2 linked regions of the Homo sapiens genome follow. The protein of the gene in region 1 purifies or fractionates together with the protein of each later gene. This does not show direct contact. Each region holds a gene or a part of one and is shown on either strand. Other genes may lie near its edges.

Region 1 (3,500 bases):
CATCTCTCTAGGAGGGTCTGGGCATGGAAGGATGCCCAGTTGTGAAGAGCACCCTCTCAGGATGGGGCACATACAGCAGGGCAGTTTCTCAGAGGCCCTCTTCCTTCAGGAAGCCTTCCTAGGATTTTGTTGTTGTTTGTTTGTTTGAGACAGGGTCTCACTCTGTCACCCAGGCCAGAGTGCAGTGGTGCTACCTCGGCTCACTGCAGTCTCGACCTCCTGGGCGCAAGTGATCATCCCACCTCAGCCTCCTGAGTACCTGGGATGACAGGTGGGCACCCTCACACCTGGCTAATTTATTTATTTTTTGTTTTTTTGTTTTTTTTTAGTAGAGATGGGGTCTCGCTATGTTGCCCAGGCTATTCTCCTGAGCTCAGGTGATCTGCCAGCCTTAGCCTCCCAAAGTGCTGGGATTACATGTGTGATCACTGCTCCCGGCCCCTTCCTATGTTTCTGGGGGTTTTGTATCCCCCTGGGCTTCAGAAGCCCTTTATACCATGGTATAATGCTAGGCTGGGTCAGCTGCTGGCAGAGGGTTCGAAGACCCCTAGGCCAGGCTCCCGACCCTGCCCTGACTTCACTCCAGAGCCACATTGCAGAATGACAGGGACCCTGTGAATGTCCGAGGGCTGGGGCTGCCTGGCAGGCTGCCAGTGCCTGGGGCTGAGCCAGGCTGGCTTATCTCTGTCTGGGGCATCTGGGATGGTGTGGCTGGTCCCTAGATCGTCCTGAGCCCTCTCCTTGCCTGGAGGCCCAGCTCAGGACAGCAGTCAGAACAGGCCCTGGGCCAGACTAGCCTTGGTGGGCCAGGAGGGACTGAACTGCTGACTGGGACCTCATGAGTCTGGGGAACCTGGGAGTGAAAACTCAGTGTGAGCCCCCCTGCTGGGACCCACCGCATGTGGCCTGGGGTATTCCTGGCCCCCGAGCCTCAGTTTCCCCATCTGTCCAGGTGTCTATAGGGATTGGACAGGTAGGTGCAGGTACTTCGAGGCCCAAAGGCCTGGCCTGACAAGGGCGCAGCAGCTTCTGCCCCGCCGGTCCCGAGCGCCCCACGGGCGAGTGCCACTCATACACAAACAGTGCTAATGAAGAACCTGATTTAAATGAAAACGTCTGAGTTAAAATTTTCCATTCCACATTTAGCTGTGGCGGACATTCTGCCCCTAAGCCACCCCTCTTGCTCGGCGGTATCTCCCTGCCAGCCCAGGCGGGACTTGGGGCCTCAGCCCGGGTGGGGCCTATGGTGGTGGTGCATGTCCCTGCCTGTGGCCCTGGAGGAGGGATTGGAACCTCGGGGCTGGGCCCCCTGGACCTGCCCTCCACCCGTAGCTTGGCTGGAGCCAGCCAGGAGGGGCTCAGAGGGACATGGCGGGCCAGACACTCCACCTCCAGCCCAGGCCCAGAGCCTGTCTTTGCCTGGCCCTCCGGCAGGCGAGCCTGGTGTGCACCATCAGGTCTGGGTGGGAGTGGAGCCTCCCCGAGCCTGGACCCAGACTACTGCCTGCTAGGCCCTGCCTGTGGGAATGCGTGTCTTTGAGTGTCCCTGAGCATCCACACATGGCCTCCCCTGTCCCCATGTGTCCTCATGCATCCTTGCATGTCCTTGTGTGTCCTCCCGTGTTCTTGCGCACCCTGAGAGTGCTTGTGTGTCCTCACACTTGCCCTATCCACAGAGGGGCAAAGGGAAGCCCAGAGAGTGGGAGGGCCGTGTCTGAGGCCCAGAGTGAGGGGCAGCCGAGCCGAGGCTGGATAGGGCTGGGTGCAGTGTGAGGAGGCATGTGTCTATGCATGCCTGTGTTCACGCGTGTTCACACATAGGTCTTGGTGGGTGAGTGATGTGCAGGCGTGTCTGCGTTCATGCATGTGCACCAGTGTGTGCACGTGTGCATGTCTGCATGCAAGTGTTCATGCATGTATATGTGTTTTGTATGCAGACATGATTGCATGTGTGCATGTGTGCCTTCTGTGCACCAGAACAGGTTGTCTGTGTGTTTATGTGTGTACATGCCTGTATATTTGTGTGTGTGCACACATACCCATGCACATGTGCCCTGGAGCATGTTTGTGTGTGTGTCCATGTCTTCACACGTGTCTGTAGGTGCCTGCGTGTGCTCCTCATCTTCTCTCCCACTGAGCCCTGAGAGCTCTGGGCCCTGGTGGGTTGGCCTGTGAGCTGGTCCCTGTTAGGCAGGATCTGACCTTGGGGACTACAGAGAGGACAGTTGCCTCACTCTGGAGGACTGGAGGAGTGGGCAGCAGCTCAGGTCCCAGTCAGAGAACCCACAACAAGCCTCCCCAACCCCTGGATTAGGGCCCATATGGGCCCTCACAGGCATGTGGCAGGTACCCGCACTGGGCAGGAGGGACCCGGTCACACTGCAGATTTCCCAAAGTAGCCCCACGGCTGCAAGGCTGCTGTCCAGCCCGCCTGGTGTGGGGGAGTCCAGGCTCAGGGAGGACACAGCAGTACCGCCTGCTTGGGCTGGCAGGGAGCTCAAGTCAGCATGGGGTTCAGGCCCCGCCTGCCTGATGGGCGAACACACCCCCAAGGCCCCCGTTAGGGCCAGGAGGCAGGCTGGCAGCCAGCGCAGGTGCAGAGGGGCCCCGAGGCTTCCATCCTGAGGTCAGCACTGGGAGGACAGAGGCTGCCTCCTTGCAGCCCGAGGGTTGACCAATGGCACTCGCCGCATCCCTTCCCAGAGCAGGCCAGCCCCACGGGCATCATGAGGGCCTGCGTTTGGTTTAATGCTCCGCTGTCAACATCTTGAAATTCTCTGTAATTTTTAAATAAGGGGCCCGCAGTTTCATTTTGCACAGACTATGTAGCCAGCCTTCCCCAGAAGGCTCGTGGAGAGCTCCACAGGCCCTGCCTCTCCCTGGGGGAGCTGCTCACCTGCCTGTGCCCATCTTGTTGGGCCGACCCTGCCTTAGGGGCCTGTGGTCCTGGCTGAATGGCGTTGCATTGGAGGCCAGGCACATGTTTGAGTGCTGCCTGTGTGCCAGGCAGGGCTGGGGAGGGTGGAAGGAAGCCTGGGGGCTGAGCCACTGGGCAGGGACAGGGAGAGCCCTCCCAGCAGAGGGAGGTGTGGCCGCAGCTGTGTCCTCACCCTGGTGTCTACCTCCACGGGCTGGGCCCTGGACAAGAGGAAGGGTAACTTGGGCTCCCAGCCCCGCCGAGGATGGCTGTCGTGGGAAGCGGAGTCTTTAAATAGCCTCTTGCTTTCCACTAAAAATAGTGAAGCTCTGCTGCCGTGGAGGTGGTTGCCGGGGCGGCGGGGCTGGCTCTTGGCCAGGCGGGCGTGGGTGCAGCAGCGTGGCCACGTGCGCTGGAGTGGTAGGCAGCGCGTGGGCCCCATCCACTGCTAGTGGCCATAGAGGTCAGGGCTGCTGTGGGGGATCCCCACTAGCCCCCCGACTATGCAGAGGGCCTGGGTGCAGGGAGGGACGCAAACCCCTGTGTTCCTGTCCCTGCTGCTTGTCACAGCAGCTGTCTCAGG
Region 2 (3,500 bases), on another chromosome or scaffold:
TCTTCTCCTGTCCCTGGCATACAGCACTCTTGGAGGACATGTTACCTGTCTCCCAGTCCAGTGGGTTGTGTGAGGCACTCCCAGGGGAAGCAGGACTACAAAGGCATGGAGAGAGAGGCAAGGACTCAGTGGAATCCCACCCATCTCTGAATATCCTGCGGCCAGGCCTTCCATCAGGGACCACTTGACAGGGGTCCACGCTCCCTGCTGCATGGGCTGGGGCTGCAGAAGGCAGAAGCTTGGAAGGGGTTGCGAAGACCCTCAGGGCAGAGGAAGTGTTTGGGAAGGGGAAAGTCTTTTTTGGAAGCTTTTAGACACAGTTAAGTTCTCTCTGGGTTAGGTGCTGACCTCCTGGAGAAAGAGATATGGAAACCTGGCCCTCCCTGGCCAGGCTCAGGACTCCAGGAAGGCCCCAGAAGCATACACGTTGCTGGGGTGAATTCTTAGTCCCCGTCTCAGAGCTCGCACCTGCCTCAGGCCAGTCCAAGTGGGGTTCTGTTGTCAGGAGGGTGTGCATAGGGGGGTGGTGGTTACTCAGGTGGGTGGGACACTATGGTTAAGAGACCCAGATTTATAAAACAGCAACTCAAAGTACTATTAAAAAAGAGTCTTAGCTTCAGAGTTAGTGCAATCAAATATTAAAGTACACGTACACACATGCACAGAGGGACAGGCCACATCTGCATAGGAACAACACATCCAGGGACACACAGACAGTCTCCAAGACAGAGATGTGCACTTGGGCTCACCACACACAGACATGTGGACCCAGAGTCAGAGCCCCCCAAGGCAATGCACAGGGACACACAGAGGGGACCCTTGCCAGCCCCTCAAAAACTACCACCAGGGCATGATCAGTCAGATGCAGAATGTGAAAAATCCCACAGGACAAATGACTCCATTTCTCAGGACAAATAAACAGCTTAAGGGAAAAAAGGGACGGGGAACTTTTTTTTTTTGAGACGGAATTTCACTCTTGTTGCCCAGGCTGGAGTGCAATGGCGCAATCTCGGCTCGCTGCAACCTCCGCCTCCCGGATTCAAGCAATTCTCCTGTCTCAGCCTCCCAAGTAGCTGGGATTACAGGCATGTACCACCACATCCAGCTAATGTTGTATTTTTAGTAGAGATGGGGTTTCTCCATGTTGATCAGGCTGGTCTCGAACTCCTGACCTCAGGTGATCTGCCTGCCTTGGCCTCCCAAAGTGCTGGGATTACAAGCATGAGCCACTGAGCCCAGCCGGGGGATTGTTACAAATCAAAAGGCACTCAGGAGACACGCCAACCAGATGCGTGCTGTGGACCACATTTGGATCCTGATTTTTAACAACTAAACTGTAAAAAGATATTTTCGAGACAATAAAAGGAAATTGAACATGGATTCCATTTTAGATAATATTAAGGAATCATTATCCTTAATATTGGCTGGGTGTAATAACAGCATTGTTGCTATGCATCTTTCTGAAGTCCTCATGTGTTACAGATACATCCTGAAGTGCCTATGGGTAAGACGATGCGATGCCTAAGATTTGCTTTACTACCCCAGAAAAAAAAGTAGGGAACAGATGAAGCAAGAATGGCCAAACGTAGATAAGTATGGGATTGGATTCATTACATCCTTCTTCATTATGTGAGTCATTATATGCTTTTCTCCACTTCTGCATATATTTGACCTTTTTCTACTAAAGAAAACCATCCTCGCTGGGGCCACCTTCCTGCTTCAGCATACCACTTATGTCCCCTGGCTGCTGGAGGGAGCCCAGGAGATGGTAATCTGAGTCATGGAGACAGGAGGGGCCATCGTTTTAAGCCCCTCAGAAGAGTTCCCCTGCCCCCACTGGGAAGGCTGGGCTCCAATTGGTCCTCACAATAACCAGCAGCATGGGCATCCATACCTTTGAGGCACAGAGGGGACTGGTGACCCCTCCAAGATGCACAGGCAGCATGTGGCCAAACTGGACACCAGATCCAGATCCCCACTGGCTGCCTCTGGGAGGGACTGGGGTCAGCACTGGAGTCTGGCTCAGGGGCTGGAGTCTTATCGAGAAAATAATACCCACCACATGCAGGGGGCCAGACTTCCAGAGTGAGTGGCAGCCCGGCAGACCCAGCACCTCCTTCCAAAGCAGTTATGTGAGACCCCCTTACTACCCTGAGGTCCCACAACAGCCTGGAACACCAGGAAGCCAAGCCCTCAGGAAGTGCTCACACACACCCCCACTTGGCAGGGTGGGGGTGTGTACTACCTCTGCTAAGAAGCCTGGGTTCAAGGCTTTCATGGAGCAGGAGACCCTGCTCCAGAGAGATGGCCCTGCCCAAGGTAACAGCAGTGTCTGCCTCTTACTTTCTGTGCACCATGTGCATATTTGGGCACTGCACACATGCTAACTCCTGCTCCTCATAGCCCCACAGCAGGTGCTCTCACTAGTCCCATGGTACAAGATGGGGGAACCAGGCAAAGAGATGGAAACTGTTGGGCCTCCCACAGCTGGTGAGGAGCTGTGCTGGGATGCTAACTCAGGCAACATGGCTCTGGAGCCTGCCCTCTCACCGAAGCTCTCCTGCAGGGCTATGGAGTGCACTGGTGGCAGAATGCGGCGCTGACTTTGATCCCTTCGTCTTTCTCCAACTCACGTCGGTTCAGCCGTACTCACTGTCACAGTGGGCTCTGAGCTGCCTCCCAGCTCTCCTGGAGGGTTCTCCTGATGCCTGGTGGCAGACCCCAGGCCCCACACTCAGCATCCATCTCCTGGGCCTTCCTAACTGGCACCTGGGTCTAGCCTGGGCCTAAAACCCTCCTGCATCTTTGCAGGGCACTTAGGACAAAACTGAAATCTTTTTAGCAAGATGCCTTCAGGACGCTTCAAGATGTGCTTCCATCCCAGCACTCCCGGCCTTTTTGCCAGTCCTTCCCATGTACCTCCCCTCAAAAAGCTACAAATGGTTGCTACCATTACATATATCCATTTCCCAAGAAGGTCCCCCCCATCGCACCCCACCCCAACGGGGCTGTTAGGACCCTGAGGTGGCACTCACCATGGGGGCCCCGCGGTGGCCAATGAGAGCAGGCTTGGGGCCGAGGTCTTTCTTCTCCATGATGCAGGGAGAGGAGATGGTGAGAGGGGCCAGGTAGAGGGCAAACACCACGGTGAAGAAGGTACAGAGAATGGTCACCTGGGAGGCTGCAGATAAGGGGCCGTGAGTGCTGCCTGGTGAGCCCTGGGCAGGTTGGGGTGCAATGCTGGACCCCTCTACCCCCGACCTGTCAGGATCCAGGTGCTCTAGGGGGAAGCCCTTATTCTTGCTGGGAAGATGAACCCCGCCTCTAACTCACACAGACACAGGTGCATACATGCAGAGAGAGAGACATGGAGGAGGAATACAGTGTGAGGCCGACTGAAGCTGTGACCCTCCGTGGACTCTGTGGGCCACTCTGAGCCAGAATCCCCCTCACTGAGTGCAGGGGCCCCACCCCATCCCCAGGCCACCCCCAGGGAAAGC

What was found.
Region 2: the proteins of ZDHHC8 (region 1) and GDPD5 purify together in Homo sapiens (co-immunoprecipitation; one large-scale study listed by IntAct). This does not show direct contact.

What each region holds. Positions count from the first base shown.
Region 1 is NC_000022.11:20,134,804-20,138,303, forward strand, and holds part of ZDHHC8 (palmitoyltransferase ZDHHC8), read left to right. Parts: intron 1-3,500. UniProt on the Homo sapiens protein: Palmitoyltransferase that catalyzes the addition of palmitate onto various protein substrates and therefore functions in several unrelated biological processes.
Region 2 is NC_000011.10:75,445,942-75,449,441, forward strand, and holds part of GDPD5 (glycerophosphodiester phosphodiesterase domain-containing protein 5), read right to left. Parts: intron 3,182-3,500; coding exon 3,036-3,181; intron 2,709-3,035; exon of another isoform or gene 2,551-2,708; intron 1-2,550. UniProt on the Homo sapiens protein: Glycerophosphodiester phosphodiesterase that promotes neurite formation and drives spinal motor neuron differentiation.